6 separate regions of the Homo sapiens genome follow, and all the other regions are reported to be linked to region 6. The links are microRNA targets in miRTarBase. Many come from high-throughput screens and were not tested one by one. Region 6 holds a microRNA gene; each other region holds the end of a gene's coding sequence.
The links. Region 6 holds the annotated microRNA hsa-miR-6770-5p (UGAGAAGGCACAGCUUGCACGUGA, at 2,794-2,817, shown strand). A microRNA usually pairs through its seed, bases 2 to 8, with sites in the 3' UTR of a target mRNA and lowers its output. Matches are read on the target gene's strand: a 7mer-m8 pairs with bases 2 to 8, a 7mer-A1 pairs with bases 2 to 7 and ends in A, and an 8mer does both.

Region 1 (4,093 bases), not on the chromosome of region 6:
TCTGGGTGACACTGGGAATGGGTCACCTGTCTCAGGGCAGTCCTGACCCTGGTTCCTGGCACCCCCGTCCTAACCCGTATCCCCTTTCCACAGGTATTAACAAGTAAAGGTGACGCGTGGGCCAAGTACATGGCAGAAGTGAAAAAGTACAAAGCTCACCAGTGCGGTGACGATGATAAAACTCGGCCCCTGGTGAAATGACGCCCCTCCCCCACCTGCCCATGGCCTGGGACTCTCTGCGATGTACATAACTATTTAATGCAGCGGCAGCGGCGACAGCCTTCCCTGAGAGGACTTAAAAGCAGAAGGAAACCGAGATGCTTCCCGCAGCCGTGGACGATTCTCCAGGACTCTTTTTTTACCTTGAGCACTTGCCTCGTGAGACTTCATAGAACAGTGGTTTACTGTCCCCCCCTTCTCACCTCCTCATTCTCTCTGGCTCTTTCTGTCTTCCTCTTCTCACCCTCCTCCCTCCCCTTAGCCATCACTTCTGGGAAGTAAAGAACTTGACTTAGTGCCGGAGCTGTGTGCTTGGTTTGTCTTCTTTGCGCTGTCGGACCTAAGCCTTCCCCCTGTTGCTGGCATTGTACCTGTCAAAGCCTGGGCCTGACCCAGTAAGGAGCGGGATATGGAAGGGTTAGGAAGGACAGGGGCACATCCCCTCCTGTAGGCCTGGACTTTCCCCAAGACCTATCTCCCCTCACTGCTGCATCTCTACCGTGCCACCTTAGGCTCACTTTCTCTTCACAGTTCCATTTTGGCTTGGCCAAAGCTGTTGCATTGTGCATTCAGCAGACACTTAGGAGCATCTATTATGTGCCAGGGCTCTGCAAGGCTCTGGGACAACAGCTGGGAGCACGCAGACCACACCCTCCCTGCCCTTACAGAAGGAGACAGACACAAACAAAAAGGGGAAGCCCTTTTGCAGCTAGGGAGGAGGCGGGTATGTCTTTTAGGTGACATTTGATTAGAGTCCTGAGGGAGGTGAGGCAGAGTCCCAGGCAGAGGGAACAGCCAGGTTGGAGACAGCTTGGGCCTGATGGGGGCCTCCTAAGTGAGGAGGATGGATGAATGGATTATGGTGGGGAGAATTCAGGAATTTTTTTTTTTTTTTTTGGGAGATGGTCTCGCTCTGTCGCCCAGGCTAGAGTGCAGTGCTACGATCGCAGCTCACTGCCTCACTGCAGCCTCCACTTCCTGGCCTCCTCCCACCTCAGCCCCGCAAGTAGTAGGGACCACAGGTTCACACCACCATGCTCTGCTAGTTCTTTAATTTTTTTGTAGAGACGGGGTCTCCCTATGTTGCCCAGGCTGGTCTGCAACTGCTAGGCTCAAGCAACCCTCTCACCTCGGCCTCCTAAACTGCTAGGATTACCAGTATGAGCCATTCCTGGCCCAGGATTTTATTCTTTTTTTTTTTTTTTTTTTGAGAGTCTTGTCTCTGACACCCAGGCTGAAGTGCAGTGACGCGATCTCGGCTCACTGCAACATCCACTTCCTGGGTTCAAGCCATTCTCCTGCCTCAGCCTCCCGAGTAGCTGGGATTACAGGTGCCTGCCACCATGCCTGGCTAATTTTTGTATTGTTGGTAGAGACAGGGTTTCACCATGTTGGCCAGGCTGGTCTCGAACTCCTGACCTCAGGTGATCCACCTCGGCCTCCCAAAGTGCTGGGATTACAGGCCTGAGCCACTGCGTTGTGCCCAGGATTTTATTCTTAAGTGAGGAGAAGGCTTTGGGGGGTATTTGAGGTAGCAACATCATACGTTTTATATCTTCAGGGGATCCCTCTGGCTCCTGTGGGGAATAGACTGAAGGGGGCTGAGGGTAGAACCTGGGAGACTGAGGAGGGGAGTGGAGGGGACTGCATCTTGGTAGTAGAGGAGGTGAGGAGTGCTGAGAGCTGGATTCCATGGGGCTGTGTGCTCCACTGGGGGAAGGGCCACTCAGTCCTCTAGCTACTTGAAGCCCTTCCAGGGAGGCTGGAGTCTGTCCCTTCTGTATGCATACACCCTCAAGAGAAAGAGGGCGAGGGGGTTCTCTGTCCAACCTTACAGAACATGATCATTGGCACAGACCTAGCCCTTCCATGCCCTCCTCCTGGCTCCACTGCCCATCCTGTTGGAGCCAGAAGCTGCCTGGCTCCACCTGTTCTCCACCAAACCCACACAGGTTTTAAGATGCCCTTGCCTCCCAACTCCTCAAACCTGCTGGACCTGGAGCAACGTTGGGGGGTCCCCCAGCTATAGGCTCACCCCAGTCTTCCCAGGCAAGAATGGCAGCAGCTGAGCAGCCTTGGCACTCCTACCCAGCTTAGGGCTGGGCCCTCTTCCACTTTCTTTTTTTTTTTTTGAGATAAAGTCTCCCTCTGTTGCCTAGGCTGGAGTGCAGTGGTGAGATTACAGCTCACTGCAGCCTCAACCTCCTGGGCTGAAGCGATCCTCCCACCTCAGCCTCCTGGGTAGGTCTACAGGCATGTGCCATCAGACACGGCTCATTTTTTTTTTTTTATTTTTCGTAGAGACGAAGTCTCACCGTGTTGTTCAGGCTGGTCGGGAACTCCTGGGCTCAAACCATCTTCCCACCTTGGCCTCCCAAAGTGCTGGGATTACAGGTGTGAACCACTGCACCCAGCCCCCTCCTTCCCGTTTTTTTTTTTTTTTTTTTTTTGAGACAGAGGCACACTCCGCCCCCAGGCTGGAGTGCAATGGCGCGATCTGGGCTCACTGCAACCTCTGCCTCCCAGGTTCAAGCAATTCTCCTGCCTCAGCTTCCTGAGTAGCTGGGACTACATGAGTGTGCCACCACACCTGGCTAATTTTTATCTTTTTGGTAGAGCCGGGGTTTCCTGACCTCAAGTGATCTGCGGCCTCAGGGATTACTGGCATGAGCCACTGTGCCTGGCCCCTCCTTCCACTTTCAATCAAAAGAGGACCAAGACTCAGAGAAACACGGCCTCAGCAAGTAGAGGGTGGAAGGCACAGGGCTGTGGTCCTGGGAGTGGGCTGAGGTGGGCCTACCCCGGTACACCACAGGCTCTCAGATTTTGCCAGATGCAGTCTGTGCAGGTTGGGGTGGAGCACTGACTCATGTAACAAATGATGAGCATCTGCTATGTGAAGTCAGCTACCTAAACAGACAAAAACCCTGCCCTGCCAAGAATGGTGGCTCACATCTGTAATCCCAGTGACTGGGGAGGCCGAGACACAGGTGGATCACTTGAGCCCAGGAGTTCGAGACCAGCCTGGACAACACAGCAAGACCTTTCTTGCTACAAAAAATAAAAGTTGGCTGGGCGTGGTGGCTCACGCCTGTAATCTCACCACTTTGGGAGGCTGAGGCAGAAGGATCACTTGAGGCCAGGAGTTCGAGACCAGCCTGGCCAATGTGGTGCAACCCTGTCTCTACTAAAAATACAAAAAATTAGCCGGGCGTGGTGGCGCGCACCTGTAATACCAGCTATTCGGGAGGCTGAGGCAGGAGAATGTCCTGAATCTGAGAAGGCAAAGGTTGCAGTGAGCCAAGATTGTGCCACTATACTTCAGCCCGGGCAACAAAGTGAGATTCCGTCTCAAAAAAAAAAAAAACAAACAGCCTAGCTGTCGTGGTGGCTCACGCCTATAATCTCAGCACTTTGGGAGGCCAAGGCGGGCAGATCACAAGGTCAGGAGTTCAAGACCAGCCTGACCAACATGGTGAAACCCTATCTACTAAAAATACAAAAATTAGCTGGGGGTGGTGGCCCACGCCTGTAATCCCAGCTACTTGGGAGGCTGAGGCAGGAGAATCGCTTGAACTGGGGAGGCAGAGGTTGCAGTGACTACACTCCAGCCTGGGCAACAGAGTGAGACTCCATCTCAAAAAATTAAAAAAAAAAAAAAGAATAGGATACCTTTCCTCTTTCGCTTCCTGCTAACACACAATAAGGTTTTTCTGCTTTACTTTGCATGTGGGCTGAAAGGTCTCTCCCTCCTACTTTGGGGATGCTAAGCTAGCCCAGGTGTGACTTTGGCCTTGGGGGTGGAGTATGGGGGGAGGGAACACAGGAAGCTAATGGAGCCATCCCTACCTCCTCCTCCCCCAAAGCCACCAGC
Region 2 (4,101 bases), not on the chromosome of region 6:
ACAAAGGGATAAGGCTGTTCCGGACCACTGCCCACAGAACCAGGAGAGGGCTCTGGTGCAGCCTCAGCTGAAGTCACTCTTGGCTGTAGCCAAGAGATGTTCATGGGATGTTCATAGAACAGGAGAGGTAGAAATGGTTATGCCAGTGTGATTCCCTCAAATCCATCACGGCTGAACCCAGATGCAATTGTCTACAGCAAAGCTGAGCTGCAATCAGAGACCTTGAGCTTATCTGGCTGTCTGCTGCCAGCATATTGAACGCAAGGTCAGAGAGACAGAAGATGTCTTCACTAAGCAGTTAATATAATGACTTTAACACAGAAAGTTTCCAGTTACACAGTCAAGAGTGAGTTAGGCACTTTAAGCTACCCAGGACCTCAAATCAGAGCTCTTTCAAACTTGCTTTTGGGGGATAAATCAAGGTTAAGAAAAGTAATTAGGGGAAGACCTCTCATAAAGACCATGGCAGAGGCTCCCCATAACCTGGGCTTCCCCTACCCCCATCACAACCATCAAAGCATAATGTCCAACGTTGTATAAACGTTCACAAAAATGCAGAGATGATGTGTACTAGCTATCTAATACATTGCTGTGTAACAAATGACCCCAAAAATGTAGCAGCCTAAAGCAGTAAACATTTATTATCCACATTTCTATGGGTCAAGAATCCAGGAACAGCTTAGCTGAGTGGTTCTGGCTTGGGTCTCACGGGATTACAGTCAATGTGAGCTGGGTGCAGTCACTTGCAGCTGAGGCTCACCTCCGCGCTCACTTACGTGGCTGTCGGCAGGCCTCAGCTCCTTGCTGTCTGCTGGCCAGAAACATCCGTGTGTGGCCAGTGGGCCTCTCATGGGCTGTGTATCCTCACAACATGGCAGCCGGCTTGCCCAGGAAGAATGGTCCAAGAGAAAGCCCAAGACAGAAACCTAGTCTATTTTTTAATTGCTTCAACAATTTATTCATTCAAGAGATGGAACAAATAAATCCATTTCAGAGAAAATGGACTGAGGGTCAAAACTGGGTACAGGTCAAGGAAAAGGCAGATGTAGCTTACACTACTTTCCTATGTGTATAAAAGAAACTGATCTTTTATAACCTATTCTCAGAGGTGACATACCAACCCTTCATCTATACTCCACTGGCCACAACCAGTGGTATAACACAGGAGACTACACACAAGCCATATGAATACCAGGAGCGATCACTGTCTTGGAGGCTGGCTACTGACGGTCCTGATTATCTGGCTTAATTCCTGAGTTATATATAGGACTGAGTGTGAGTCTTTACCACACACATTCTCAGAGTTCTCAGAGCCTGGGCCTCACTCATTTCTTCTCATTTCCCTTTTAGGTCCCACGATGAAACTGAAACGGCTCACAGTTTTGGAGAAGTACAAAGGTATCATTGACTCCTTTTACCAAGAGCAAAAAATGTAATCAGGGCCTATGCCTGCAGTTTCTATAGAATAGAGGGCAGGCGTTCCGAGCCTCTTCCTGAGCCCCAGGTCTCTTCAGTCTGGGCACAGGCATTTCTGCCAAGTCTGTTAGATCTCCAGGTCAGGGCACAGCACTGGCTCTACATTTACCAGGTCTTACGCCAACAATAGCTGACAATTCCAAGAAGCTTCACGTGTGGGTAGTTTTAATTCAGTTTAAGTATTGCTTTTTGTTCAGGTGACAAATGAGATCAGCTCTCCTTCCAGAACGAAAGGGCTGATAATTTTTGGCCTTAGTTCCAGGTAGATTAAAAAGCTGCTAGCTCACATACAGGACAGCCAGCAGTAGGCTGTGGAGCGGGTAGGAGAGAGATGGCTGATACTGCTCACGTGCGCTGCAGGAAAAGCAATCAGTCACAACTCACCTAGCGACCTGACTTACTCTGGAATCTTGGCGGGCATCGCCGACCCTATTATTCCATTACCAGGCACTCCGCCACCCACATGCCAACTGACTTGATGCTTAATAAAACTGCTGCTGCCTGTTTGATTCTATTTAATGTATAATTTGAATATTAAACCTTTTAACAGAACTGTCAACAAGGACCTGATTTTTTTTGTCAATTGAGCAGGTGGGACCAGTGCAGAGAGTAGTGGGCATTTAACTCACAGGACTGTGCACAGCGGGCATGCGAGTGACCATTAGTGCCCTGGAATAAACAAAGGTGCAGGATGGGGTCAAGTGGCGCATTCTCATAAAAGCAGCCAGCTCTACGTTAGCCTGTCGCCACCAGACCACCCCACTTCCATTCTGAATACGGGAAGCAGCCATTCTCAGTAGCAAGCTGAGCCAAAATGACCGAAGGCATCTGAACAGGAAACAGGTAGAGAAAGCAAACATCTCAGTTTTGGAATTCTTTATTACTTTGAACCCAAGAGCCACTGATAACTGGCACAATCCAATGAAACAGAGGAAGCAGCAGCTTAAACAAAGGAAAATACATTTAAGATTATAAGTCTGGGGGGGCGGTTACAAGCTTAAAAAGTGACCCAGACAGGGATATCATTGCTAAAAAAAAAAAAATCCCCTTGTGACCTGGGTACATTTTGCAAAGCCACAGGTTTGCAATGTTACACAAGGGCCAAAGGAGGCCATGAGTTGTCTTTGGTTGTGGGGACAGAGGGTAACTGTTCATGAAAATAGTGAGTGTCTGAAGATTAAGAAAATCATGCTGCAGCAGAGGAGAAGGGAGAGGAAGACAGGAAGGGAAAGGAGATGCCTGAGGGTCAAAAGCTGAGCCCAAGCCTAAGCCCAAGCTCAAGCTCAAGCCCCAGCATGGCATAATTTTGTGAATTAACTCAGGCTGAGTTGCCTCCAGTCTTTGGAATGTCATCTTATACTGGTACTGCTGAGGCAGAGGGCAGTAATTGGTGCTTTGGGATAGGAGAAGGGGCAGTTGCTGAAATACAAAATTAATAGCATCCCAAGTTCCTCAATTGCAGCCAAAATACATGTGTTCGGGCCTTTCGGCAGTATCGCCCCCAGAACTACCTGCTGTAGTGTGGTCCATTCCCAGACAGCAACATGCAAGAATAAGTTTACAATACACTCAGCCCTTCTGGCTTCAGATCAGGGGCTCAGAGGCTGTGACAACTCATGATGCTGAAAATGTATCCAGTGAAAATGAAGTACTAGCTCTCTGCTTCATTAAAAGCTCTTGGAAAGAATATTAAATCTCAAGACAACAAAATAATTGAACACACAATACATTTGTGTCTTTGTATCCAATATATTACCTTTGTCTTATTAACAAAAATTATATCTCTCATTATATATTTCTTGGATCTGAAGTTTTTATTCACACTCAGTAATTTCTGTAAAGGACAAATCTGTCTCTATTTTCCATATCATTTAGAAATATACCACATTCACTCTTTTTGATGTGAACTTTCCCAGGAAAATTCTCTTGTGCCCATTTAGTTTTAGAAGAGTGTCATTTTGTGCTATTATGTCAATATCCTGTTTTATTTCCATTATGTTTTTCAAAAACCGAAGAAAATAAGGTTTTTCTTAAAAAGTTAGACATTTTCTCTTGTTAATTCTGTATCCTGTTATTTACAGCTGAAGAGAAACTATTTTAACTTAAGTGTAAAATGGTTTAGAATAGCAAATGATACAGTCCACTCAGAGTTTACAAAAAAAACATTTACCAGGTAGACACTTAATAAATAAAACAAGCACTTGGAAAAAGTTCTTTGAAAACAGACCTAGGGACATCCACCTGCATCTTTTGCACAGATTTTGTTAAGAAAAGGCCAGATCTAAAAATGTACTGTCAAGAAACAAGCAAACCAATGCATACATACGTAGGTATTCTAAACAGAGGTTCATGTGGTGTCCATTTAGAGTGACTGATGTAAATGCCAGTTGTAGAAGTGTTAATCTAAATCTTTTACTCGGCGACAGATTTCCTCTGTGAAGTCTGAGCATTTTGCATTGCCTCCCAAATCTTTTGTCAAGCTCTGAGAAAAGGAAAAAGCAAAAATAAAAGATGTATCCGCAAACTAAACTAAACCAAGGAGATTTTAAAGCCCTCAGTGAGATGCCACCTGGGCAAGTTACTCGGCTGCTCTTTCATTTAGTTCCTCATTTCAAAGTGAGGAAC
Region 3 (4,101 bases), not on the chromosome of region 6:
GACATTTGACTATTATAAATAGTGCTGCTATGAACATTTGTGTAAAATTATTTGTTTGAATGCCTGTTTTTAATTCTTTCAGTTCTACCTAGGAGTAAAATTGCTGGGTTGTATGGCAATCCTACGTTTAACTTTTTGAAGCAGTTGATTCTTATTTTTAAGGATGCTTTCCTCCATGTGGTTGTTATATCCTGGTGGGCCCGATGGCCCTTTGCACAGGGCTGGGCACCAGGAGCTGAGCCCACGTGCAGTGGGCAATGGAGAGCTGCCCCTCACCATCAGGTGCTCAGAGTCCTCATGGCCCATTGTCCTTCTTTTCTGTCTGGTTGGCCTCCACCACTCTAACCTGTCCATTCTGTCCCCAATAGATGTGCCCGTGGAGAAGCTGGCCGCCATGCCAGCCTTGCGCAGCATCAACCTCCGCTTCAACCCACTCAACGCCGAGGTGCGCGTGATCGCCCCGCCGCTCATCAAGTTTGACATGCTCATGTCTCCGGAAGGCGCAAGAGCCCCCCTACCTTAGGCCACCCTCCTCATGCCCACCCAGCAAGGGGCAGAGGCCACAGGCCTGGAACCCTGGAAGGGAGGGAGGCCCATGGGAGGCCAAGCCTGGGGGCTGGGGGCGGGTGGGCCGAGCAGCACGTGGTGGGTGGGGTGCAGCTGGTCTGGATAGATAGCTTACAGCAGTAGTGGGCTCTGGAATGCCCAAGGGAAGAGGCAAGGTGGGGCCTGCAGCCTGGACTCGGCACTCACAGCTGCTGTGCAAACTCAGGCAGATCTCCTGCCCTCTCTGAGCCTTGTCACTTGAAAAAAACAGGACCCTTTCCCTCCTTTGGGCTCCCTGGAGGTTTTTAAGCAGTACGTGCCTCCAAGTTACCTCCAGATCAGCAGGCACAGGTGGGCATTGCCAGGTATTTTCTGAGCCCCTGCGGGTTTGAGGCCTTGTTTTTAGTGCTGAGAGCCAGTTGCTGCCCTGAGAAGAGAAGACAACCTCCATCTATTTATTGCTTCCTGAGAACTGACCTGGATGCGGCCCTCTGCAGGGCCCAGTCTTCAGTCCTGTGGTCCCTGGACTGGTGGGAACCTGAACTAGGAGTCCTGGGAGAGCTGTGGTGGGAATATGGGCTGGCACTGCTGCAGGGCAAGAACATTCATGTAGGAGCCCGAGGACCAGCAGGCTGGGAATGGGGAGCAAGTCACGTCAGCTCTGTCATTCCCCACAGTTAACAAATTGGCGGGGTGGGAAGTCCTGAGTGCTCCGTCCCTCTAGCATCACTCCTGAGCTGCGGGAGAGGTGGCCCAGAGAACAGCAGAGTCAGTTACACCTGCAGCTCTTGTCTAAAGTGATTAGATGGCCACCCTCACCACTGTCCAGTCCAGCAGCAGCCTGGCTGCCTTGTCATGGCCTCCTGGGGGCAGAAGGCGATGTGGACCACGGGATTTGTAGCCAGCCAGCTCCCAGGCCAACGCCCAAAGCCCTGATGACCTGGTTCTTCTGAGGCCCTCAACCTGGCATCTTAGGGTATGGTCAGGCAACAGGGTGACCAGCTGTCCTGGTTTCCCAGGACATGGAACTTTCAATGCTAAAACTGGGACAGTACCCAGCAAGTGGGGATGGTTGGTCCCCTACCAGGAGAGGGCCTGGGGCTCTTGCTTCCCGAGAACGCCTGTGGCTTGAAGAACCTTGACTGCTTGGTCCTCAGGTATCTACCTCCCACCTTCTCCTCATCTGTGGAGCAAGCCAACTCAGTGCCCCAGACCCCACCTGATCTGCATCTTTGTTTGCATCTCCAGAGACACCTGAGGCCCCAGAGCTTGAGGCAAAGCCAGGCCGTCCAAATCCTGTGTGCCGTGGACGAGTGGCCACTTTACTACTCCTAAGGCTAAGATGTTGAGAGCTCAGACCACTGCTCAGAGCAGTAATCCCTGCTCAGAATGCTCCCAGTTCCCTCGTCCCTGCCCAGGTCTCTTGTCTCTTGGGAAGGAACTGATAGGTCGGGCCATTGTTGGGCCATCACTGAGCGCTCAGTATCTCAAGAGACTCTGTTCATTCTGCTCGTATCCCAAGGCCTGGTTGGTCAAACTCTGGGCAAAGGGTTTTCAGGATGAGGAGGTCAAGACAGGATCTCCAGAGCTACCGAGTTCATCTGTGGGTGTTGGGGGCAAGTGGGGGCTGAAGTCCTGTGCAGGCTGCGCTGGCCCCACCTGCCTTGTGCCCTGGAGTGGGGTTTCTCCTTGTTGAAGAAGAGGCATCCTTCTCTGATGTGCACAAACACAATGTATGACCAGAGCCTTGCAACTCAAAGTGTGGTCTGTGGACCAGCAGCGGCAGTGACACCTGGGAGCTTGTTAGGAATGCAGAGTCTAGGCCTCACCCTATACCTCCCGACTCAGACCCTGCATTTTAGCAAGACCCCCAGCTGATTCCTATAAGCACTTTAGAGTTTGAGAAGCAAGGACCTAGGCTGGGGATGTCCTCCGAGCAGAGGGTGAAGTTTCTCTCAGTTCTCTCCCTGCCACTTCCAGGGATCTGAGCCTGTGCTCAGCCTCCTCCCTAACCCACCCTGGGAGACACTTGGCCTGTTAGATTGTTCCAGAGTCTGCATGGCACTCCTGAAGAAGGGAGTGTGACCTGCAGTCACCAGGAGATGAGGGTTAGGTGTGCCCAGCCCTCCAGACCCGGCCTTTCTGGTTAACCCCTGCATGCCAAGCTGCCTGCTGCCCCAGGTCCTCACCTCAGGCCTTTGAAGGGGCAGCTTCTGGAAGTTGTTTTCTCCTCTGCTTGGAGAGTTTGCCCTTGTCTGTCTTGGAAAGTGTGGGCAGCCACAGATGCCCCCAAATCAGAGCTCACAGTGAGTGAGCCCCTAAGCTTCAGTCTGCAATAAAGAATGCATTGGTTTCATCTGCCTGGTTGGTGTTTGATTCATTCTCACTGTACAGACCTCCTATAGCCTGGGCGTCAAACCAGCCCACATGCAAGAGGGGTGCCCTCTTGTTGAAAGCACGAGGTAAAGAAGGCTAGAACGGGATGAAACGTGGATTATTCACAGGTGGGCACAGGTGCAGCCAAGCAGAATTGGTGCGTGCCCCCCAGCTGCGTTACTGCAGGATGGCTAAACATCAGGGGGAGACTGTGTATCTGGGAAAGGATGAAGAGACCCACTATCTCCACATTTCTCTCTTACCAGTGCCAGAAATTATTCCCTTAGTAATTTGTTCCTCTGAGTCCATGGTTCTCAAAGAGGGATCTCTGGGCCAGCAGCATCCGCAGCACCAGGAAGTTAGTTAGAAATGCGAATAGTTGACTCCACCCTAGATGTGCAGAATCTGAAACTCGGGGATGGGGCCCAGCACTCTTAACAAGCACTCCATGTGGTTCCGATGCCTGCTGAAGTTAGAGAACTACTGCTCTGGGTTCAATGTTAAAGTCAGGTTTTGCTTTTCTTAAGTCTGAGAGGCCAGCTTAAGTTTGCCTTGAGTTTTAGTCCAGATGCTCCATTGTTTCTAATTATTATTATTATTATTACTATTTGAGACGGAGTTTCACTATTGTTGCCCAGGCTGGAGTGCAATGGCGTGATCTCGGCTCACTGCAACCTCTACCTCCCAGTTCAAGAGATTCTCTTGCCTCAGCCTCCCAAGTAGCTGGGATTATAGGCGCCCACCACCATGCCTGGCTAATTTTGTATTTTTAGTAGAAATGGAGTTTCGCTATGTTTGTCAGGCTGGTCTTGAACTCCTGACCTCAGGTGATTCACCTACCCCGGCCTCCCAAAGTGCTGGGATTACAGGCATGAGCCCACTCCCAGCCGATCCATTATTCCTTTTATTTTATTTTTTATTTTTGAGACGGAGTCTCACTCTGTTGCCCAGGCTGGAGTGCAGTGGCACGATCTCAGCTCACTGCAACCTCCACCTTCCAGGTTCAAGCAGTCCTCCTGCCTCAGTCCCCTAGTAGCTGGGATTACAGGCATGCGTCACCATGCATGGCTAATTTTTGTATTTTTAATAGAGACCGGGTTTCACCACGTTGACCAGGCTGGTCTTGAACTCCTGGCCTCAGGTGATCCACCCGCCTCGGCCTCCCAAAGTGCTGGGATT
Region 4 (4,000 bases), not on the chromosome of region 6:
TACCCCCAACCCTCATCTTTCCCAACCACACTCATTCCAAATTCTTGCTCTGGGGGTTCTGATCCATGGGCAGGTCACGGTGTGGGAGGCGGAGGCTCCACTCCAGGGAGGATTTGGAGCTCCACAGAGTACACCTGGGGCAAAAGGAGCCTGGGCGTGGGAGGCCAGGACTGGGAAGGTTCTGGGACTCTCTCCCTCACCCCGGACTCCTCCCCAGAGCCTGGGGCTCAGCAACTCTCATGACCGGGCACTGGTGAAGCGCAAGTTGAAGGAGATGGCAGCAGCTGCCGAGAAGGAGCGCAAGGCCCAGGAGAAGGCTGCGCGGCAGCGGGAGAAGCTCCGGCGCCGAGAGCAGGAGGCCAAGAAGAGCTAGGGGAGGGTGCACAGGCGCTGGCACCCGGCAGGGGCAGCCACTGGCTCCGCGGGCACAGGCCTCACCAGGGAGGCTGGACCTGGGCGCTGCACTTGGGCTAGCCTGGTCCCACGCTCTCAGGGGGGACATGCTCTCTCTTACCCTGTCACTTGGTCTAGACCCAGAGACCCCAGAAAGGGAGACCCCAGGGAGAGGGCCTAGTAATAAATCCTATTTTGAGGACTTGTTTGGCACAGAGTTCCTGGGGGAGGAGCAGATGAAGGGGAGAGGGCAGAGAGGCCAGGGCTGAGGCAAGTCTGGGAGGCTGGGTCAGGCTGTCCCATTGCCCTCAGGCCATCGTGGGGCTGGGGTGGAGGGGAGCTAGGAGGCCTGCCTGCCTGCTTGCCTGCCAGAGGCCCTGAGGCCGGGCCCCAGGGCTCAGAGCTGGGCTGGGCATTTCAGCAGGAGCCCATGTGGGAGCGGCTCCTCTCCACTCTTCCAGGGGGCTGTGTGGTGGGAGAGCTCTGTCCTGCTCCCCCAAGAGGCCAGTGGGCGCTGCAGCAAGTCGCACTCAGGGTAGACTCCCAGCCAAACTCCTCAACAGGAGCGCAGAGAAAGCAGCCTGGGGCGAGTGCAGTCTTTGCCAGGACTCAAGAGGGGAGGATGAACATCCCCTTCTCCCTCTCCCCTCCTCTGTCCTGTGGGTCCCAGGGGGCGAGATGACACCACACAGGTCTGCCTCTCAGGGCCCATTCAAGACCTGGTCTTTGACCCATTCTCCAAGCCAGGACTCCCTTCACTTCCTGCTGCTTCCTCAGAGGGCACCTAAGTCCTCTTTGGGAGCTGAGCAAACAGGAACTGATAGGGACAGAGGACACCACTTCCACCAGCCAAGGCCTAGGAGCTGCTGACCTGGTCAGCCCTCACCCCAGCCAGGCAGAGAGGCAAAACCTGGGGGTCCCCGGCAGCTACGAGATTGGAAAGGTTCATCAGCCCTCCCCCATCTGCCCCAGGCATTGTCAGGGAATCAGTGGGCTCAGAACTGGCAGGCGGTGCAAGCTCTGCTTCCCTGGGCCACACTGAGGGCTGGGGCCAGCTCCCTGGATGGGGGTGGAGTTTACCAGCAGCCTGGGGACAGCATGTGTCCTTTTTAGGAAATGTCCTTGGAGGAAGTGTTCATGTGTGGCGCTGGTCAGCAGCTAGTCCCGCTTCCAGGACACTGGTCAGAGTTACCGATGAGGCCTGGGGGCTCCCGCTTGGAAACCCCTCCAGCTCCTCCCATCTGCCCAGACAGAGCGGCAGATGGCACCAATGCATGCTGGCTCCCTCATTCCTGCCCAGGGGCTGTGGCTTACGGCCAGCACCCTGTACCTGGGACTCAGCCCTTATCCCCCCTCTGCTATCTGTGCTGGGAGAGGGGCTTCGGAGGGAAACAGATATGAGGACACTGGCACCATCTGGGCCTGGTGGCAGGGCCATGGGAGGTTGGAAGGCACCCACATCCTTAAAGCCATCAGTAGCTATAGTGGGTGCCCACCTGCATGTGAAGGGGAGGCAGTTCTCAATTTATTTCAATAAATCCTTATGATGTGCCAGTGACCAGAATTTCTGTCTGCTCCAGTTGTTGGGTTGGCCGGACTCTGCTGGGCCCTGAGTATGGTGGGACAACAGGTCTGTCACCAGGTGCTGGGCCATCCGGCGTTCTGAACAGATGGCTTTGCCCAGTGTTTTACTCACAGTCCTGAGCTGGGCCGGACGTCCCCGGTGCGTCATGTGGTGGTCACAGGGCACCGCAGTGTGCGTGTGTACGTGCGCACGTGTGGGTCCCCTCCCCCAGGGATGCAGCCAGGCCAGTCTCATTCAGTCTCCTCTTTACTGTGGGTGTGGGTGTCACTGTCACTGCCACAGCCACTGGGAGGGACACACAGCTTTAACCCCTGTGTGCTTAGGGGAAGGGTGGGGGCATTCAGGGTTATAAAACTAACTATATACACAGAAGGTCCTAGGGAGAAAGCCACCCTGAGCACACATGTCTGGGCACAGTGGGGGCTGGGGGCTGGAGCTCAGGCAGGATGGACTAGGCTTGTGGAGGAGCGGGTGGGCATGAGCATGTGAGGACATGCTGGGAGGGCTCAGGAGGTGGCACAGACATTGCCAAGGCCACTGCAGGGCCTCGAGCAGCTTGGCTGGATGGCAAGCTCTCGGTCTAACAAGGTTCTTCCACTTTAGAGTTGGGCCCTGTGAGAGCCACCCCCTCCGCCACCGACCTTCAAGCCCTGAGCGGAGGGAGAGGCTGCAGGACCAGCCTCATTCCCCACTCACGGGTGTAACTCCTTTCCCCACTCAGTCCCCAGGTCTGGAGGGCACCCACCCTCTTCCTAACACTTCAGCAGGCCAAGGCCAGGGTGCCTTTGTGGGCTGGGGGAATAAGGCAACGGGACATCCACTTGGAAGGCCTGTGCTGTGGAGGGTGCTGAGGGGGACCCAGTACCCCTGGCAGAAAAGTGACAGCCCTGGTCTCAGAGAGGAGGACTGCCATGGGAAAATGTCTCTGGGACACCCCATCAGGGTGGAGACATCCCTAACCCTCAGGCATCGCCCACAGAGATAGGGAGGCCACCGAGGGGTCTCCACAGAGATGGACTGGCACTTAGGGACCATCACAGACCTATCACCGCAGTGACTTCCATAGAGACAGAACCTGGTCATCAGGGAGAACCCACCCCCTGCTCCCCCAGGAGGATGGTGAGGGGCACCACGGTGGGGGGACCCAGAGGCGGCAGTCCGTCCTCTCAGGTGCAGATGCACGGCGGCCCTTAGCTGACGCGGTACGTGGACGTGTTCTTGGGCTCCGTGCTGGGCACACACCAGTCGCCGGCCTCCTGGATGGTCTGGTAGTGGCGCCAGGCTGACTTGTTGTAGACAGGCAGGCGCTCCACCGAGTCCGTGGACAGGGCCTGGGGAGTGTCAGGGTCAGCCCCTCCCACCTCCCTGTGCCTTGTCCACTCCTCAGCAGACCACCCCACCCCAGCTCAGCGGCAGCCCAGCTGCCAGACACGGGGGCCTGGAAAGACCACAAAAGGGTGGTCCCTCCTGTGTCCCGCTCCTGCCCATTCAAGCAAGCAGCTCCCTCTAAGGGAGGGAGAGGGAGGGGGAGGAGGCTGGGCTGTGTGACCCTGAGCAAGTCACGGACTCCGGGCCTCAGTCTTCTCCTCTGAACTGAATGGCAAGACCTAGGGTGTCCCCTTCCTTCTGGGTCTAACAAGTCAAGGGTTCCCAGCACAGGGGTCTTAATCATAGACCACAGACTCCCCTAAATTCCCTGACAAGCAGTGCGTGTCTGGGGGTTGAGGGTTCTTCAGGTTGAGGAACTGTAGCTTTGCTTGGATTCTCAGAGTCTGGGGCCAGGGAAGGACTGGGGGGATGGAAAGGAAAGCTCGCAGCTGGCCAAGGCTGCCCAGGTCCTATCAGCAAAGCTCTTCTCCAGCTGGGCTCTGCGGGAAGGGCCCTCACCTTGAGATAGATGACAGCATCGGTCCCAAAGCCTTCCATGGAGAAGAGCTGCAGGTCTCCCTGGAAGTACTTGGCGTAGAGGCGGGAAATGGGGAGCCCATAACCAAAGCCAGCCTGCAGCGGGGCAGGAAGGCA
Region 5 (4,101 bases), not on the chromosome of region 6:
CAGTCATTGCCTCCTCTGGGTTCTATTTTGCCATTACCTTTCTAGTCCTCTTTATTCTTGCTTCCTGCACCCTAGTAAGGCAGGGGAGAGGCTTAGGGAGAGATAAATCAAGAAAGTTAAAGGAAGGTGTCCATTCCCACTGAATTAGGTTCTCTCCTTGCAGCATTTGTGGTCACTCTGCTGGGTGTGTTGAGGGTGGGGGGATTGTCTCCCTTCATCCGTGCCTGGTGTTCAGTTCCAGGGTTTTCCCTACCCCACTTCAGGGCTGAGCTCAGCTATACAAAGGGACTGGGTGTGAAGCCAGGGGATGCTAGCCCTAATCCTGTTGTAGATCCCATCATGTCTGCGGGCTAGATGTGTGTGTGTTTGGGAGGGAGGGATTGTTAGGCAGTATTTGTTTGTAAAGCCACTTGCTCTTCAGATAATACTTGCACTAACTTCTATTGATGAAGCAGTGTGAGCCCTAGCAAAGTCCTTTCCCAAAGTGTCTTTGAAGCCAAGAGCCCATTGAAGGGAAGAAAGGCCGGGAGAGGGGATTAGTTTGTTCAGCAGCTGTGAATTTCAGTGGGAGGTTGATGAACTCCGAAGTCTTTGTTTAAATTAAAGTGGGGGAGAAAAAAGCCGCTGCTGGAGCGAGAGCCCCACTTGGGGCCCTGAACTAACACAAGGAGAAGTCTGAGCTGCAGGGAGCTGTGTACTGACTGCGAAGACTTTTCCCAAACACTTTCGGAAAAGGTGTTGTGAGAAGACAAGGGGGCGGAGTGGCGGATTAGCATGTGAAATGAAGTTTTCATTGACTCCAGTGGGGGTAGAAGGCTATTTTAATGGCATTTTGTTCTCCTATTTTCTCTTCTTGAGCTCTTTAGAGATATTGTTTTGCTAAGACAGGCTTTCTTCCCCCTTCTTTCCAGTCTGAGGATTGCCTCTATGGGAGCCAACATAAATATTTCTCCTCCAGGAATGCGGGTTAATTAAAAGGAAATGAATGAGTGGAAGCATCCAATCCAGACCTACAATAGGCGAGTGCCCTGGCCTGCCCTCCCCTCCCACCACCGCCAGCACCACCAGCGCCGAAGACGACCCCGTCTCTGTCTTTGCCCTAACCTGCTGCTAAGGCCAGTTGAGGCTGCGATTCTTTTCAAAAAGAAAAAGCTCTGCCTGTGTTTAGGCTCACAGGCCAGGGACAGGAAGGAGACAGTGTTTTGCCCACCCCAACCAATGTCCTTGTCACTTCTCAGGGCCTCCCTCTGTTTCTGTCTTCTGGCTGAGACAGATGGGCTCCTGAAGAGCACACAAGAGGTGGAAGGGGCCTGTGCTCTGCACTCTCCCCACAGTAACTTACTAGTTGGGGGAAGAAGCCAGTCATCTTTCTCAGCATCAGTTTAAATCTGTAACACAAAAGGTTTGACTGGCTGACCTCAAAGATGTCTTCCCAAGCACCAGTTCTGGAGTTGTCTACTTTGTAAAGGGACCACGGCCCTGGCAATTGAGTGTAAGATGAGAACTTAAACTCCGTGATGCAGCAATGGTGGTTGTTCACCACTATCTCTACTCTGGTGTTTGTTGAATGAACAAATGAACAAGTGGATATTGCAAAAGGAAGGGAAAAGCAATACAGATCCAAGGCATCTCAGTCATGTTTTCTTGGTAGAACTGGAATGAATCTGGTATCCATTTGGGGGTATAAAACAATAACCTATGAAATAATGTTCTGGCGGCATGACGTATTTAGAGTGCTGACCTGGAGTTACCAAATATGAAGCACAATAGTTCTGCTTTTATGCTAAGAGACCTGGAGAATGTAGCTTTACTTTACAACATTGTGCTTTTAAATTTTCTAGCTGCCTTGCCAAACTTTCTTCGTGTACATTATAAAGTAATTCTGCAAAGTGGGACAGGTAGGTTAGTATATGCTGCTTCTTGATTAAGGAGAAAAGGTGAGTTGGGAGATTCAGGAGGTTCAGATAAAAGCAGAGGGAAGGCGTGAAGGGCCTTTTGCTGAGAAAGCTGGAAATGAAGCACTAAGAACACCTGAAAGGAAGTGTATCCCCGGTCAGGAAGGGGAAACTCTCTCCTCAGTAAGTGTTGGTAAGACCAGAAGGTGTGTGGGTGAGGCCAAGGGTTTGGGATCTGACCTGGCCATTGCCTTAGTTTGGAATACGGGAACCCTTGACTCTTACAGGTGAACCCCTAGAGTCTTGGCTTTTGTTGCCTGGAGCCAGCCACACTGCTTTTCCTACTCTGGGAGAGGAAGGTTGAGGTCGTCTAGCATCTGACCAGTTCTGCTCTAGAAGAGCTGCCCAGCCCCAGACCTGGGACTGTCCTAGGGCAAGGAAGCTGGCTGGGAAGCCCCTTGGGCTACAGAGGGTCTGTCAGGGATTGGTTCTTCCCTCCCCAAGGTCTTGCTCTGTTTCATAAACAAGTCCCTGCTGTACTCTCTGAGAATAAAACCAGAAGACTCAAGTACCACAAGCAGCAAGCTCATGGCTCTTGAGTGAATGTATTAGAAGATTTAAATAGATGATTTACTAATCCTTGGCAGCTTAGCCTCAATCCAGATAACTGCTTGGGCCACCAGGGAAGTGAGGCTTTAGGGAGGATGGTATCCTGCCAAGATGGGAGGGAGGAGAGAGCCTACAGGTTGTATCTGTTACCACAGCCCACCCGAATATCCTCAAGAATAAGTGCAGTACCTAGAAAAAGAGCACATATCACAATGACTGCAATAAATTAAGGTTCAAGGTGCTGAACTTCCTACTAAGCAACAGTTTCATTGCAGGAAGTTTACTCATTGAAGGAAGATATCCAGTGCTCTGAATCCTGCCTGTTTGAGAACCAGGTTAGTGAGAAGGAAGGGTCTCAGTTTCTCCTTCTTAGGACCTGCCTCTAGAGGTGCAGACCAGGATCTGAAGAGGAAAGTGGCTTTATTTACCTCAGTCTTGGCTCAGAGGAACAAAGATCCTTTGGAGAAGAAGAGGTAAAGTTGGTTGCTAGGAGGAAGTAGGTCAGGAGAAGGGAGAAGTTACCTTTAAAGGGTAGGAAATGACTGTAATCTGCCCTTAACGTATTTCCTAGACCTTCGGGGTATGTATCTGGAGTCCCTCGGGTTATTGTCTAGGAAAGTCATTGCCCCACTAGTAAAGTCCATTCATGATATGATACCATAGGGATGAGTAGCACCCTTGGTGTTCAAGTTAGCACTCCAGAGCTCCCTCTTCCATCTTCAACCTCTGCCTCTAGGAACCAACCCCAAAGACATGCTTTTCCGGGGCCAGTTTCCTCAGTTTTTCTGGGAAAGGAAAGGGAGAAGAGGAGAGAAAGCATTCAAGATTCCTGGGGAATCTGGCTCAGCAGGTAGCAGGGGAGGAGCTGTGCAGAAGAGAGGTGCAGCAGTGGGTGAGCCCTGGTAGCAGACAGTGGGCAAAAGGGCAAAGCTTTGACTTTACCTGGGTCCTGCGTGTCTGAGAAGGGTTCTTCCAGCGCCTAAGGCTTGATAGGCTAGGTCAGACATTAGGGCTGCTAGGAGAGGGGAGGAGGAACACCTGTTCTCCTAATCCAAGGAAGATCAGTAACTCAAAGCCTGAGTTCTCAGACCTAGGTGTGGCTGCGAGGATTCAGACAGAGCTCTAGGAGAGCACAGAGGAATTGGGGAAACAGGCTGGAAAGTGGCAAGCTTTGGAGAAATTGCAGTCTCTCCCTCTCAGGATCCCTAGGTCTGGGAGAGCGGGTTCCCCATTCCCTAGGTTCCACAATTACCGGGGTCTCTAAAGGAAGCCAAGAACCAGTGGGAAAAGGAGGGGGCAGAGGAAACCCTTAGGGTTTTCTCCCGGGTTTGTGCGCAGCGCCCCCCCGCGGCCGCTCTGCGCGGCTACAGAAGTACTTGGTGACCCTCCGGCGGCACTGCTCGCAGCGGACTGCGCAGCACCAGTGGAACTTGCAGTTGCAGCTGGACACGGTCTCGGCCCGGCGCTCCTCCACCGCCAGCCCGCAGTCCCCGCAGAGCCGGCGGCAGCTGCGGCGTTCCCAGCGACCCAGGGCCCGCCCGCGCCTTAGGCACTCTCGGCCTTCGGTGCCCAGCAGCCCTAGCGTTTTGTTCTCCAG
Region 6 (4,101 bases):
CCCTCCTCCTTCCTCCCCTCCCTCTCCTCTCCCCCTTCTCTCTCCTTCCCTCTCCTCTCCCCCCTTTTCTCCACTTCCCTCTCCTCTCTCCCTTCTGCCCTCCTCCTTCTCTCATGTGAAGAGGTGCCTTGTGTGGTCAGTGGGCTGCATCACGTGTTCCCCAGGTGGAGGCCCTGGGTCATGCAGAGCCACAAAAAATGCTTAGTGAGGAGGCTGTGGGGGTCCAGTCAAGTGGGCTCTCCAGCTGCAGGGCTGGGGGTGGGAGCCAGGTGAGGACCCGTGTAGAGAGGAGGGCGTGTGCAAGGAGTGGGGCCAGGAGCGGGGCTGGACACTGCTGGCTCCACACAGGGGCCCAGCAGGGAGCTCGTATGCCGCTCGTGCCTGAAGCAGACGCTGCACAAGCTGGAGGCCATGATGCGCATCCTGCAGGCAGAGACCACCGCGGGCACCGTGACGCCCACCGCCATCGGAGACAGCATCCTCAACATCACAGGTGCCGCGGCCCGTGCCCCACGCCACCCGCCCGCCCCACGTGGCCCGTCCGCCCCATGCCGCCCTTTCCTCTGCCTCCCTCCTCCCCACAACCGCCTCGCCTTTGCCCCATCCCATCTTCGTCCCCCTCCCCTCCCCCCAATTCCCATCCTCATCCCCCTCCCCCAATTCCCATCCTCATCCCGCTCCCCCAATTCCCATCCTTATCCCCCTCCCCCAATTCCCATCCTTATCCCCCTCCCCCAATTCCCATTCTCCTCCCCCTCCCCCTTCCCTATTACCATCCCTTTTCTCCATCTCTCTCCCCTTTTCTCCATTTCCCCCCCGATCCTCCCCGTCCTTTTGTCCATTCCCCTCATCTTTCTTATCCCCCTTATCCTCCTTCCCCTCCCTTATCCCCCTTCCCCTCCCTTATCCCCCTTATCCCCTTCCCCTCCCTTTCACCCTGCTCCTCTTCTTCTCCCCTTTCTCTTTTCTCTACCCTTTTCCTTCCTTTTTCCTCCCTCTCCCCATCATCCCCCTCATCTTCGTCCTCATCCCCATCCCCTTCCCCCTCCCCCTCCACCACTCTCTCTCCAGCTTCCCTCTTCCTTCTGCCTGCACCTCGCTCTCTGCCCCCTCAGGTTCCCCCTTTCTCCCAGTCCCCACCCTCCGGCTCCCCCTTTTTGCCTGCCCCCACCCTCCCTCTGCCTCCCTGTCTCTGCACTGACCTCACGCCTGTCTGCAGGAGACCTCATCCACCTGGCCAGCTCAGACGTGCGGGCACCACAGCGCTCAGAGCTGGGAGCCGAGTCACCATCGCGGATGGTGGCGTCCCAGGCCTACAACCTGACCTCTGCCCTCACGCCCATCGTCACGCGCTCCCGCGTGCTCAACGAGGAGCCCCTGACGCTGGCGGGTGAGGAGATCGTGGCCCAGGGCAAGCGCTCGGACCCGCGGAGCCTGCTGTGCTATGGCGGCGCCCCAGGGCCTGGCTGCCACTTCTCCATCCCCTAGGCTTTCAGCAGGGCCCCGGCCAACCTCAGTGACGTGGTGCAGCTCATCTTTCTGGTGGACTCCAATCCCTTTCCCTTTGGCTATATCAGCAACTACACCGTCTCCACCAAGGTGGCCTCGATGGCGTTCCAGACACAGGCCGGCGCCCAGATCCCCATCGAGCGGCTGGCCTCAGAGCGCGCCTCACCGTGAAGGTGCCCAACAACTCGGACTGGGCTGCCCGGGGCCACCGCAGCTCCGCCAACTCCGTTGTGGTCCAGCCCCAGGCCTCCGTCGGTGCTGTGGTCACCCTGGACAGCAGCAACCCTGCGGCCGTGCTGCATCTGCAGCTCAACTATACGCTGCTGGACGGTGCATGCAGCGGTTGGGGCACACGCGGCCCCCTGGCCTTGTTCTTGGGGGGAAGGCGTTTCTCGTAGGGCTTCCATGGGTGTCTCTGGTGAAATTTGCTTTCTGTTTCATGGGCTGCTGGGGGCCTGGCCGGAGAGGAGCTGGGGGCCACGGAGAAGCAGGTGCCAGCTCTGGTGCAGAGGCTCCTATGGCCTTTCAGGCCCATGGCAGAGGGTGGGCTCAGGAGGGCCATCGTGGGTGTCCCCCGGGTGGTTGAGCTTCCCGGCAGGCGTGTGACCTGCGCGTTCTGCCCCAGGCCGCTACCTGTCTGAGGAACCCGAGCCCTACCTGGCAGTCTACCTGCACTCGGAGCCCCGGCCCAATGAGCGCAACTGCTCGGCTAGCAGGAGGATCCGCCCAGAGTCCCTCCAGGGTGCCGACCACCGGCCCTACACCTTCTTCATTTCCCCGGGGTGAGCTCTGCGGGCCGGCCTGGCAGGGCAGGGCAGGGCATCATGGGTCAGCATTGCCCGGGTTACGGGCCCCGTGGGGACGGCAGGCAGCGAGGGGACTGGACCGGGTATGGGCTCTGGGACTCCGACATCCAACCTGGCGGAGCCTGGGCTCACGTCCACTGCCCCTTCCCTTCCCAGGACCAGAGACCCAGTGGGGAGTTACCGTCTGAACCTCTCCAGCCACTTCCGCTGGTCGGCGCTGGAGGTGTCCGTGGGCTTGTACACGTCCCTGTGCCAGTACTTCAGCGAGGAGGACGTGGTGTGGCGGACAGAGGGGCTGCTGCCCCTGGAGGAGACCTCGCCCCGCCAGGCCGTCTGCCTCACCCGCCACCTCACCGCCTTCGGCACCAGCCTCTTCATGCCCCCAAGCCATGTACGCTTTGTGTTTCCTGTGAGTGACCCTGTGCTCCTGGGAGCCTCTGCAGAGTCGAGGAGGGCCTGGGTGGGCTCGGCTCTATCCTGAGAAGGCACAGCTTGCACGTGACCTCCTGGGCCTGGCGGCTGTGTCTTCACAGGAGCCAACAGCGGATGTAAACTACATCGTCATGCTGACATGTGCTGTGTGCCTGGTGACCTACATGGTCATGGCCGCCATCCTGCACAAGCTGGACCAGTTGGATGCCAGCCGGGGCTGCGCCATCCCCTTCTGTGGGCAGCGGGGCCGCTTCAAGTACGAGATCCTCGTCAAGACAGGCTGGGGCCGGGGCTCAGGTGAGGGGCGCGGCGGGGTGGCAGGGCCTCCCCTGCTCTCACTGGCTGTGCTGGTTGCACCCTCTGGGAGTGAGTCTCGTCGCAGGCGTCAGAACAAGGCAGTTTTTGCAGTGCTGTGTGAAGGGCTCGTGTGTTCATCCTGGGAATGACCTCGTGAGCACTCACTGTCCCTGAGGACTAGGACAGCTCCTAGCTGGAAGTAGGTGCCAGTCAGTCAGGGTGGGCAGCCCACGTTCTACACAGTAGCGTAGCCCCACAAGTTACGTGAGCATCGCTACCACTGTGGGAGACCATGCATCCACCCGCGATCCTGACTGCATAGCTCGTCTCTCAGACGGAGGCGCCAGCACCCTCCCCGTGGCTGTTTCTTCAATACCTCCATTTTCCTTTCTTTGGAATTGCCCTTCTGGCATTCCCTTTTTGTTTTCGTTTTTCTTTTTTTGGAGACGGAGTCTCGCTCTGTTGCCCAGGCTGGAGTGCAATGGCGTGATCTTGGCTCACAGCAACTTCCAGCTCCTGGGTTTAAGCGATTCCCCTTAAGCGATTCTCCTGAGTAGCTGGGAGTACAGGTGCACACCACCACACCCAGTTAATTTTTCACCATGTCAGCCAGGCGAACTCCTGACCTCAGGTGATCCGCCTGCCTCGGCCTGCCAGAGTGCTGGGATGACAGGTGTGAGCCACCACACCTGGCCGTGTTCCCATTTTTTATTTCCATGCTGCTTTCATCTTCATTTCCCAGTTCTTTCTTTTGATTACCTACTTTTAAAAACTGTCGGCCGGGTGCGGTGGCTCACACCTGTAATCCGAGCACTTTGGGAGGCTGAGGCAGGCTAATCACGGGGTCAGGAGATCGAGACCATCCTGGCTAACGGTGAAACCCTGTCTCTACTAAAAAATACAAAAAAATTAGGCCGGCGTGGTGGCAGGCGCCTGTAGTCCCAGCTCCTCGGGAGACTGAGGCAGGAGAATGGCGTGAACCCGGGAGGCGGAGCTTGCAGTGAGCTGAGATTGCGCCACTGCACTCCAGCCTGGGTGACACAGCAAGACTCCATCT

Region 1: the mRNA of TRIR is a reported target of hsa-miR-6770-5p. Seed matches in the 3' UTR shown: 8mer at 414-421 and 7mer-A1 at 456-462.
Region 2: miRTarBase lists IDH3A as a target of hsa-miR-6770-5p. Seed matches in the 3' UTR shown: 7mer-m8 at 2,881-2,887 and 7mer-m8 at 2,679-2,685.
Region 3: miRTarBase lists LRRC20 as a target of hsa-miR-6770-5p. Seed matches in the 3' UTR shown: 7mer-m8 at 1,718-1,724 and 7mer-m8 at 2,254-2,260.
Region 4: miRTarBase lists SAMD14 as a target of hsa-miR-6770-5p. Seed matches in the 3' UTR shown: 7mer-m8 at 1,026-1,032.
Region 5: miRTarBase lists WNT8B as a target of hsa-miR-6770-5p. Seed matches in the 3' UTR shown: 8mer at 3,463-3,470 and 7mer-m8 at 3,010-3,016.

The regions. Positions count from the first base shown.
Region 1 is chr19:12,727,069-12,731,161 of GRCh38, reverse strand. TRIR (telomerase RNA component interacting RNase) reads left to right here. Exons shown (of 3, transcript NM_024038.4): 3 at 94-522. The coding sequence ends at 201. Among named protein-coding and RNA genes, the nearest start is that of TNPO2, 5.2 kb to the right of the region's middle.
Region 2 is chr15:78,168,779-78,172,879 of GRCh38, reverse strand. It overlaps IDH3A (isocitrate dehydrogenase (NAD(+)) 3 catalytic subunit alpha), which reads right to left. Exons shown (of 11, transcript NM_005530.3): 11 at 935-3,958. The coding sequence ends at 3,875. ACSBG1 (acyl-CoA synthetase bubblegum family member 1) reads left to right here. Exons shown (of 14, transcript NM_015162.5): 14 at 1,351-4,101. The coding sequence ends at 1,436. Among named protein-coding and RNA genes, the nearest start is that of IDH3A, 21 kb to the right of the region's middle.
Region 3 is chr10:70,297,776-70,301,876 of GRCh38, reverse strand. It overlaps LRRC20 (leucine rich repeat containing 20), which reads left to right. Exons shown (of 5, transcript NM_001278212.2): 5 at 369-2,902. The coding sequence ends at 523. Among named protein-coding and RNA genes, the nearest start is that of NPFFR1, 16 kb to the right of the region's middle.
Region 4 is chr17:50,109,266-50,113,265 of GRCh38, reverse strand. SAMD14 (sterile alpha motif domain containing 14) reads left to right here. Exons shown (of 10, transcript NM_001257359.2): 10 at 218-3,226. The coding sequence ends at 373. It overlaps PDK2 (pyruvate dehydrogenase kinase 2), which reads right to left. Exons shown (of 11, transcript NM_002611.5): 10 at 3,866-3,979; 11 at 1,114-3,309. The coding sequence ends at 3,169. Among named protein-coding and RNA genes, the nearest start is that of PDK2-AS1, 8.9 kb to the right of the region's middle. RefSeq lists enhancers at 98-783, 784-1,469.
Region 5 is chr10:100,482,529-100,486,629 of GRCh38, reverse strand. WNT8B (Wnt family member 8B) reads right to left here. Exons shown (of 6, transcript NM_003393.4): 6 at 2,886-4,101. The coding sequence ends at 3,814. Among named protein-coding and RNA genes, the nearest start is that of WNT8B, 22 kb to the right of the region's middle. RefSeq lists enhancers at 118-893, 53-1,545, 894-1,670, 3,691-4,101.
Region 6 is chr16:16,326,517-16,330,617 of GRCh38, forward strand. It overlaps MIR6770-2 (microRNA 6770-2), which reads left to right and starts at 2,789; the gene lies at 2,789-2,848. It also overlaps the pseudogene LOC131696449 and the pseudogene PKD1P1.